2 separate regions of the Homo sapiens genome follow, and region 1 is linked to region 2. Evidence: fine-mapped expression QTL. A gene starts in region 2. The other region holds a variant in brackets. All regions are shown on one strand. Distances are from middle to middle.

Region 1 (5,383 bases), 120 kb before region 2:
AACCTCTTATAAGGCATTTGTGGAATATCCAAGCTGCTTTAATATGGCTTATGTATCCAGAGAGAAATGCGGATTTTGTTTCTTTGCCTATAATTGTTTTATTTTTATTTATTTATCTTTTGGAGACAGGGTCTCACTCTGTCCATGCTGTACTGCAGTGGCCTGATGTAATAACTCACTGTGGCCTGGAACTCCTGGGCTGAAGCAGTCGTCCCACCTCAGCCTCCCAAGTAGCTGGGACTACAGGCATGTGTCACCATGCCCGATTAAGCTTTACAGTTTTTTTTTTTTTTTTTTTTTTGTAGAGATAGGGTATTTCTATGGTGCCCAAACTGGTCTCAAACTCCTGGCCTCAAGTGATCCTCCCTCCTCTGCTTCCCAAAGTGCTGGGATTACAGGCGTGAGCCACTGTGAGTGGCCAATTGCCTATCATTTTAAATGGAAACTGTATACGAAATGATCAGATACAACAAAATATTGAAATAATTGTTTCAACCCATTTTGTGGTAAGGAAGTTTTTATAAGGATTATGTATTTAAATGTCAATAATTTCACTAAATAGCATTATAAAAAATTTTGGTCTAGAGCAGTTCTTTTTAATATGTGTACAGATCATCTAGCGATCTTGTTAAAAAAGCAGTGTCTGATTCAGTGGGCCTGGGTGGGGCCTGAGTTTCTGCATTTGTAACAAGCTCCCAGTGGGTGCTCATGCTTCTGGTTCCTGGAGCCAGGAAGCAAAGAAGGCTGTTAAGCAGAGAGGCCCTGGTGCCTGCCCCAGCTTGCCCACTAGTTTGCTGTGTGATCGTGGGTAAATCATTTTCTCTTCATAATTTTAGTTGACTATAAAATAAAAGAATTTGATGAAATTATTTCTTTGGGTCTTTACAGGTCAACCAATATGTAATTTAGAAAAAAAGAAATGAGAGAGTAATGTTATGCTTGAAAACCACGAGAAAACAGCTCCCTGATGGTCTAAACACTACTTGAATGCATGAAGCCAGCATCAGAAGTGTCACCTGTAGTTGGGTTAAATGCTGGCATCTTCGATGTGCATGCTTCCAGTATGATTGGCTCTTCTCCAAGGGAACTGGTGGAGGAAGCTATAATGTTCTCCCTCTTTAACACTTCCAGCTTTGGCTTCTCCTGACCTCTTTTCCTTAAATCCCTTTCTTCCCCGACATCCAGGCTCAAGCCACCCTCAGAGGCTGCACTCAGAAAGAAGCACGCTGAAGACCCATACATGCAATGCTTGGTTCTGGAAGCTTGCTCAGGAATTCAGATGCAGTGGGAGACAAAAAGGAATGGAATCCTGCTGAATAACTGGGCAGGAAGTGATCCCAGAATATGCTAGCTTCCCTCCCTCTGAGTCTAAAGATCTAGTAAGGAGCCCACCCTTGGATCTTGGAGAGAGCTCCCTTTTAATATCGGGACACAAACCGACATTTTGAGTAAACCTCATAGTCGAATACCACGGAGTACTGTTTGTGACAAACAGGAAGTCATTAATTCTTTATTATATTTTTGCTCTACCGAAAGCTGTTGACCAAACCACCTGGCTTCTCCGAGAAAACCCTTATCTGCTACATCCAGGACCAAGCAGCTGGATGGTTTATTGAAAATGCCAAAGGGATCAATCATAAAACGTGCCACTTATGTAGCCTAAACATTTTGTTTAACTTTAAACATTAATTTGCTGATATTTTATTGTAGAGTCAAGGCCTTTGCTTTGAGTGCAAGGACCTGATTGGAGTTCCTAGAAGTCTTTCTTACATTAAATCACAGCCAAAATTCATTGGCTTCTGATTTTCAGCTTCAGATTCTTACATTAAAGTAGAATGAAAACCTAAAGGCATTGGGAACCAATCTCTGGGCAGAATCCCTTTATATCACCTACCCCACTCCCCTTAAACCTTTAAATTTGCCCGTACTTACTTTTGCAACTATTTTCTCAAGTGACTCATTTTTGTTAAGACTCTCCAAAGTAATCAACCTGGTTTTCAAAGAAAGGAAAAAACTCTCTCGTTTGGCACTCCTATTTTATTAGTTTATGTAATATCGAATTAAGTTTCATAATTCTAGTAACAAGTACAACTGGCATAAACAGGTTTGGGAACAAACACCACTGACTCTTCTTAAGTACACTACTTGGGGGAGAAGCAGTACATACATATATTGCAAAAGAGCCTACAACCCAAGTTCTGGACAATGATCAGTATGGTTTAGAAAAAGAATGGAGGATATGGGGTAAATGGGTGGGGTCCTTTAGGTAAACATTGGTAAGAGAGCATCTGCTATATTTTGAGCCATCATCATCCATTTAATAATTTTAACATGATGGCTGGCTTGTTAGTGTTTTTCATATGCTTCTTTCTGTTCAAATACCAAATTTGTCAAGAGCAGAAATCGTTTTATTCATTGTTATACCCCAATGTTCATTGGAATGATTGGCATATTATAGGTGTTACACAAATATTTGTTTAAAAATGAGGATTCATATGCATTTTATTAAGGTCTGTCAACATTAAAATTATAGATTTCAAGGTATTTAAATTAACATTGATGTACTGCAAACTCTGGTAAACTATGCTAAAATAGGGTAAATTACGTAAATTATTGTTCTTTAATAATAATACTTTTATCACAGAATAACAATTTCAGAGCTTGAAGTTGCTTTAGAAGTAATTTGATTGCTGCCAGGCATACAGACACAGAAACAATTGAAAGAGCAGTTTGGATGTTCTTTCATTAGCTTTTTTTTTGCCTTGAGCTTTTTTTCTTCTGCTGCTATAAAATACTTTTCTTTCTCTGGTGAAAAGTACTTCCTTCTCATCAGGTTTTTGAAGTTCTGGAAAGATTGGGGTTGAAGGCTTTGTTTCCCTGAAACTCATTATTGCCCTGAG[A/G]ATTAAAAGGCAATGGCAGCTTTGTGTTTCCATCCTCACCATGTGTATTAGGGTTAAATGAGTACCTACCACAATATCATGCAACTAGCATGTGCCAGTCTCTAAGCCTTTGAATTCCTGTCACATGTCCATCACCATGGGGCTCTCAGGGGAGTATTGGACAGCTGCTCACTCAGCAAGCATTCACAGAGTCCTGTTCAGATGAGCCAAGTACTGTGCTAAGTCTTGAAGCAAAAAATAAACAAGACTCTGTTCTCAAATAACCACAGTCATTTCTGAAAGGCAGATAAACAACTATAATAAAAGTACAAGATCCTGTAGGAAAAAGAGTATCTGTCTGAGGAAAAAAGCGGGGAGGTGGTATTTCAAAGAGGGATTCCCTAGGGAGGCAGTTACTTTAAATCTGAGAGTCTTCAAGCATGAGCAGGAAGATAGGGGTCAGGGTGTCCAGGTGTCTGGGAGAGGATGGTCCAGGCCCTGGATACAAATGTGTAAAAGCAGGAGCCGTGGCAGAGGCTGCTGTGTGGGTATGTTGAGTTGGGAATGGCCTCAATGTGGGGGAGTGGGGAGAGCTGAGGCCAGATTGTAAAGTACCAGGAAATAACTTGGTCATTACCCTGTTGGTCACAGAGAATCAGGAAGGGATTTTAAGCAGGCACATGGCAGCTGGAGGGAAATGACAGTCTCCCCAAGGGGATAAAAGAAACCCACTGAGAGAATCGTTTGTGTCTAACTATAAAATTCCAGATAAAAGTTTAGAAGTTCTGATAAAGGTAAAACCTTGTGGCTTATATGAAGTTTCCAGTGGTGACTTAGATTTGAGGAGTGTTGAGAAGGGTGGAAGGGATTAGGATAACCCATGAAAGAGAGGTAGGAGTGAGCAAGGTTTGTTGGGGCAATTCTGAAGAAACTGACCTGGCCATAGCAGAGAGTAGGTATGGGAGAGAGTAGGAAATACGATTTGGTCAGGGAACTGAAAGCCAGATGGGAGTAATGAATTTTAGTTGATTACAAATGGACACATATAAATGAATCTTACAAAAATGTTTTTTTGTAAGTCCATTGTTTCATCCCTTTTGAGAAGGAAGGGAAGTATTAGCTTTCTGGGATGGAAAGATATTGGGGTGATCTTTGGCATGACTACAGAGGGGTTGAGGATTGGAACAGAACCAACTTCCATGTCTATTTATTTACTCGATTATTAATTTTATTTATTTATTTTTCTTTTTTTCTTTTTTCTTTTTTTTTTGAGAAGGAGTCTCACTCTGTAGCCCAGGCTGGAGTGCAGTGGTGCGATCTCGGCTCACTGCAAGCTCTGCCTCCTGGGTTCACGCCATTCTCTCGCCTCAGCCTCCGGAGTAGCTGGGACTACAGGCGCCCACCACCATGCCCGGCTAATTTTTTGTATTTTTAGTAGAGATGGGGTTTCACCATGATAGCCTGACCTTGTGATCCGCCCGCCTTGGCCTCCCAAAGTGCTGGGATTACAGGCATGATGGATTATTAATTTTAAAAGTGGGATTTGTTGTTGTTGTTGTTTTGTTTTTGTTTTTTTGAGACAGTCTAGTTCTGTCACCCAGGCTGAAGTGCAGTGGTGTGATCTCAGCTCACTGCAACCTCAGCCTCTTGGGTCCAAGCGATTCTCCTGTCTCAGCCTCCAAAGTAACTGGGATTACAGGTATGCACCACCATGCCTGGCTAATTTTTTGTATTTTTAGTAGATACAGATTTCACTATGTTGGCCAGGCTGGTCTTGAGCTACTGACTTCAGGTGATCTGCCTGCCTCAGCCTCCCAAAGTGCTGGGATTAAAGGTGTGAGCCACTGTGCCCAGCCATTTTTTTTTCCTTAAATATTTGCAAGAATTTACCAGTGAAGCCAGTTGGGTCTGGAGTTTTCTTTGTAGAAATGTTTAAGTTATGAAGTGTATTTCTTTAGCAGAGGAATATTCAGACTTTCTCTTTGTTTCAATTTTGGTAAATTGTGGCTTTCAAGGGCTTTGTCCATTTTATCTAAGTTATTTGTTGGCACAAAGTTGTTCATAATATTTTGTATTATCTGTTTAATCCTGTTATCTATAGTATCTGTAGTGATGTTCCCTTGTTCGTTTCTTTTTTTTTTTTTGAGACGGAGTCTCGCTCTGTTACCCAGGCTGGAGTGCAGTGGCACGATCTCGGCTTACTGCAAGCTTCACCTCCCGGGCTCACGCCATTCTTCTGCCTCAGTCTCTCGAGTAGCTGGGACTACAGGTGCCCACAACCACGCCTGGCTAATTTTTTGTATTTTTAGTAGAGACGGGGTTTCACCGTGTTAGCCAGGGTGGTCTCGATCTCCTGACCTCGTGATCTGCCCGCCTCGGCCTCCCAAAGTGCTGGGATTATAGGTGTGAGCCACCGTGCCCGGCCTCCCTTGTTCATTTCTAGTGATGTAGGTAATTGGTATTCTCATTATTTTTCTTGATCAATATTTCTAAAATTTATTTTA
Region 2 (5,383 bases):
AAACTCTAGCCTCCCCTTCAAATCCTCCTCCACCCCTACTCATACAGATCCAATCCAATGACATCTGGGTCCTCACTTCCTCCCCGTGCCATAGTTCAGGTTCACACTATCTCTTACTGGTACTGTTGCAGGAGACTCCTGACTAGTTTGCCAGCCTCTAGTCTCATACTCCACCCACCCTGTCTTCCACGTTACCAATAGAATGACCTTTGTAAAGCACGATCAGCTCTGCTCTTGAGCCTTCTATCTCTACCTACTGCCTCTAGGGCTAGCAAGGTGTTCAACCTACCTGGTTCCCAACCTACTGGCTCAGCCATCTCCCTTCAGTCCCTCTGTCAGAAAAATCACTTCCTGACCCTTTGACAGTACCCTCTTTTTCCTCTCATATGCCCTTCAGTTTTTCCTAGAACTCTTTCCGTTCCTCTTTCCTGCTTTTCCCTTCCCTACCCTACCCAGCAGGTTTCTAAGCATTACTGCAATAGCCAACTCAACTCTGCAAAGCTTTTTTCAAATTCTCTTCCCCCTCCATCCATTTTCTTTGTTGTGATGCCATAGTGCTTGTGGCAGGCAGGAGCACCCTGTTTTAGAAGAGTTTTCTGTGTCCCATTAGCCGTGGGTTACCTGGAGACAGGCATCGTCACTTGTGCATGTCTGTGCTGCTTGTAGATGTTGGCACTAGGGAGGTTACTTCATGCATGTTTACTGAGCTGGCTGCAATTATACAGAAGACTTACAAACATATAAGTCAAACCACGTGAAACTGCTGTTCTTCTTGGTCAATATCAGCAATTTCATATGTTTATTCTAATCTGTTTTGTTCAGTATTTTGTATTCCTGTTTTGGCTTTCAGAAGTGTTCTTACCTTCAACCAGACTGCCTTAGAGCATGGGGCTCAAAGAAATATTTTCAGCTCTGGAAGACATTTTCCATCCTACTTCTACATATAGAACTTTTCTGGCCAAAAATGGATGCATATCTCAGAAATGTAATAAGCAATACTCTTCTCTCTTCCTCTTGACAATTGTTTTTCAAATGGTTTATCATAAACATCAGTGAGATCTTGAGGCTGTTATAAAGTGATATAATGGTAATTTCTAGAATTGTAATACATTATCCTAGTGAAAAGAAAATGATGAAGTTGTGAATCAGGCAAAAGTGATGAATTGCTCATTTCCATGTAGTTTTTCAGGTGGAAAGTAGATGCAGGTATCAACTGGAGGATGTGTGAATATTTTGTCTAATGGTTTTGATCTCGATATAGAACTAGAGTTGTTCTTAAATTAAGAATGTCTTTCATATTCTGCCTTTTCACCAGCATCACTATTAAAATAATATTCTTAAGCAACAGCCAAAAAATTATTAGGATCTGCTGGTTCTATAATCAGATGTTTTTGCTGGACACTTTAAAAACCAATAACAGCTAATCACAGTGTCCTCTTTTGTGCTGAATTGAATTTTGTTTTGGTTTTAATTCTCATTTGAACTGCTGGGAAAGCAAGCCTGTTACATACCAACACTTGCCACCTTTCTATATTTGAATGGACCTAAGTAGTCTTTGCAAAAAATGTCTAAGACTGTCCTATCCGGACACACCATAGGGTTTTCCCATGGAAATAATTATATCACAAACGAATCTTTTTTCTAAAGTCTGTGGTTTTAGGCTGCCATACTTCTCAATCCCCTGACCAGGAGACAATAAAATTGGCTGGGGCCTTAATTTGAGGGAATACATATTTGATTGTGGGCGTGGTCTTCTAAGACAATGGTAAAGGGAAAAGCAAGATGTAAAATTAAACGTTGAAACAAGCTAAACTGGTTTTCAAAATCTTCTCGACTGTAACACATCTAGAAGTTCTAAATATAAGAAGGTTTGAGGGATTATCTAAAACCAAGGTATTAAAAGATCAGGTTTTTAGAAGATTTTGATTCAGTACCTTATACTTTTTTTTCAAGGAGTTGAGCAAGAAACCATCAAAACTTAGGAGAGTGATTTTAGGAGAGGGTGGTCTCCAACTTGTCTTTATGTTTGCTTCCAAGATAAGTGTTAAGCCCAACCAACTAGCAGACTATTCATGATCTGGGAATCCTATCAGTGGTCATCCCTGTATTTGACTTGAGTCTCTCTAATTTTTTATAGGGACGGCGAAGGCCAGTTGGTCAGCCAAATGCATAAAAAATGGTGCAGAAATTAGTGATGCTTGGAAACATGGCTCATAATCATGATAAAGGCTTATATGTTGGTATGGGTTGAGAATGTTGGCCTCATGGTATCTGGGTATGCAAGAAGGCAAATCATTATTGGTATACTAGCCTTTATGTTGAATATTTAGAGAGCTCTTGAAAACACCCCTTCGATTTGGAGTGAGGAATTCTAATGAGTAAAACTCCATGTAGAAATAACCATATCCGATTAAAAAACTATTTTGATTTTCATTCCAAGAAACTACCAAAATGTCAGCTCGATATACTTGTGAACATGTTATGCTTATTTTTAAATAAGGAAGGGTGCCTTTTTACAAATTAGGCTTGAGTTTCTCTTACTATCATATATATTAACTATAGACAAGGGAGTGGGTTCTAATAACAAATTGCTACATTGCTATCGTTAAATCCGTGTTTGAGTTTTCTTCCCTCTAATGTATTTTCTCCCCCTCTTTAATTTATATTTTTAAAAAGCAATGTACTTATCTAGAAATTGTATGAAAGACAAATATTTAAGAAAGTAAATAGAGACTATGGGCACGTCCTTTGAATATGTTTTGCCAGGGTCGAGGGGTAAATGAAATAAACTGATACATCATAAATGGACCACACAGGAAAGAAAGTGTCATGCCTATGCAAAGACATGCATTCTCCTTAGAGACGACATATATTGCTGTCGACCAACAAAGTCACGTGGTGGGAGGGGGCTCTTTTCTTTCTCCTTCACATCCCCTCCTCTGATGTCACAAATCTATTTTTTCCTGGGAGAATTAATTAGCATTCATTGGGTGTACTTGGCTAGAAGAAATGAGGTGGGGAGAAAGAGAGAGAGAGAGAGAGATCGAGATTGAGATCTTAAGAAAGAGAGCAAGGAGGAAGAGCCCGGTGGGGAGCAGGTCCTTCTCCCCCACCCCCCTACCCCCAACTCCCACTGGAGCCGCATTGAGACTGTAGGCACCACCGGGCGCCGAATGGCTGTTTTCTAACTGGGATCCTCGGTGACGTATGGCTGCCTGCCCCTTGGCAGCTGTCTTTATGGACCAGTAGGCAGAGCGAAATTGACGCTGACAAGACTTTTGCATCTTGGAAGGGACTGTAATCTACTGTAGTGAAGAACAGAGCCTCTCAATCAGACGGGTGTAAATAAGAGACGGAGGGGAGTCCAAAAGAAAAGGAAGAGGAGGAAAAACAAGTGTGTGTTGGGGGGAACAGGGGGAAAAGCATTTTTGGTGGATGGTATGAAGCCAGCCATGGAAACTGCAGCCGAGGAAAATACTGAACAAAGCCAAGAGAGAAAAGGTACCCAGCGCTCTGACAATAGCCTGTTTAAAGCTTTTCACTGGGGGGTGCTTAAAAAGGGTTAGCTGGGTTTTGTCTCTCTTTTAAAATGGCTCTGAGACAATCCCTATGGCATGGTCTTGCTTTCAGGGTTGATTTTTTTCCTGTGGGCTGATGTTAAGTTAATAGAGCAGCCTTTCTTCAATCCATTCCTGTTCCAAATCTTTCTACCGACGTGATATTTCATAGAGGGATGTCTATAGTTTGTCACCTTGGGCTGATGCATTGGGGAAACTGTCTTTTTTTATTAATATAATTAATCGTAACTTAGGTCTTGTGTCCTGCATGTTATATTCCAGGAACGTGGAATGTGTAGTTTTCTGCTAATGCTGAGGAGGAACTGGAGGGGCATGCATGTTAATTCTGCTTTGGTTCCGCTAATGCTGTAGTGATTTGGGCATTCTCTAATTTTCTTATTCTAATATGATTGCTCTTTCTTGTATCAGGCCCTGACTACGACATGTAATAATCATTTACAGTTGGAGCTTCAGAGAGGGGACATCAGCTCTGTCACCCAGTGCTGATGGAAAGGCAGGGCGGGGGATCTTCTGCTAATTATGACTTGGAGACTGGGGGGAAGAAAATTGATAAAGGTCCTATTTCTTAAAGAGAATCTTAGAACGTACCACAATTTTCATATACAGAATGGTTTTTTGGAGAATAAAGTGTTTTTGCAGTAAGAAAATGGCAGAAAGGAACTAAAATTAATCTCTTTTTTCTAAATAATGACTGATTTCAAGTTTGATGTCCCATAGAATCGGCTCAGCCACTGTTAGGTTAATGGATCTCACTGCATTGTAATTTTCCCTCACTCAAAGTCATAGACTGTCATAAATGCCCAAAAACATATTCTGTAACCGCAGTGGCTCTAATATAAAAAGCCATCATGCTAAGGTTATTTCTCACAGCCCTTGCGTCCACTGATAGTCACTAAAGAGTAATTCGCCAGTACGGGGACAAAACTTCGTTTTATTTATAAAGATACAGGCTGAACCATATGAAATTGCTGATAGTCAACCATTTTAAACCTACAAAAACGGCAATTACATGTACTTCAGCTTCACAGTATGCTGGGGTAAAGACTGCTTGTTTTTATATAAAATTTCTTTGGTACACAATAATATTTTATCCTAAACAGAGCAATTTTACTTTTTAAATTAATTTTTTTAGGTATCACACAATACACATAACATAAAATTTACCATTTTAAGTATACGATTCAGTGGCATTAAGTACATAGCACCTTAATTTTAAAATCGTTTGTTTAGTTCAATCCTCTTACCAAATCTACACCTCCCCACCAAAAACCCAGCCTGTATTTTCTTGTGTGTCTTTAAAAAAAAAAAATCTTCATCAATGACCAAATAGCTATAAGAGAAGCTCTTGGGAATATTTATCAAGATGAAGAAGTGAGATCAAAGTTTTTTCCATGATGACTAGAGACTAAGTTGATTGCATGTTGTCGGGGTATGATAATGTAATAGCATTGTCCCAAGGAAGCCTATCACGATTTTATCCTAAAATGATGATTTTACTTAGTACATACTTTTAATTTTTATTAATGTGGTATTCAACCATGGCAGATAAAACCGTTTTGGTCTTTGCAAAAAAATCCCTTTTTTAAATTTCTCTCTGAAAGGAAGCAAAGGTCATATAACCAATATAAAATCATTACTACACAACTGTGTATCTTATCACTTAGTCTTATGGACTGCTATTATTTTATGTCAATTAAATCTTATTTAATAACAGATCTACAGGTTGCTAGTACATCCCTGACAACCCGTATATGAAAAGTCATTAGTTGTGATTTTAGAGACAAAATTAGAAGCAAAAGATAATT

Alleles and levels. Positions count from the first base shown, and alleles are read on the strand shown. Sizes are in standard deviations (SD) of each study's normalised expression.
In carriers of allele G in region 1, the expression in sun-exposed skin of the gene that starts at base 3,252 in region 2 tends to be higher than with A alone (small effect, 0.17 SD a copy in GTEx).

The links. PIP is the estimated chance that this variant, and not a neighbour inherited with it, causes the effect.
Region 1: its variant is fine-mapped to the expression of GPM6B in sun-exposed skin (GTEx, PIP 0.96).

The regions. Positions count from the first base shown.
Region 1 is chrX:13,930,254-13,935,636 of GRCh38, reverse strand. It overlaps a transcript of GPM6B not described here. Among named protein-coding and RNA genes, the nearest start is that of GEMIN8, 97 kb to the left of the region's middle. The variant A/G (reference allele first, on the strand shown) is at 2,901.
Region 2 is chrX:13,814,962-13,820,344 of GRCh38, reverse strand. GPM6B (glycoprotein M6B) reads left to right here and starts at 3,252. Exons shown (of 8, transcript NM_001001995.3): 1 at 3,252-3,501. The coding sequence starts at 3,441.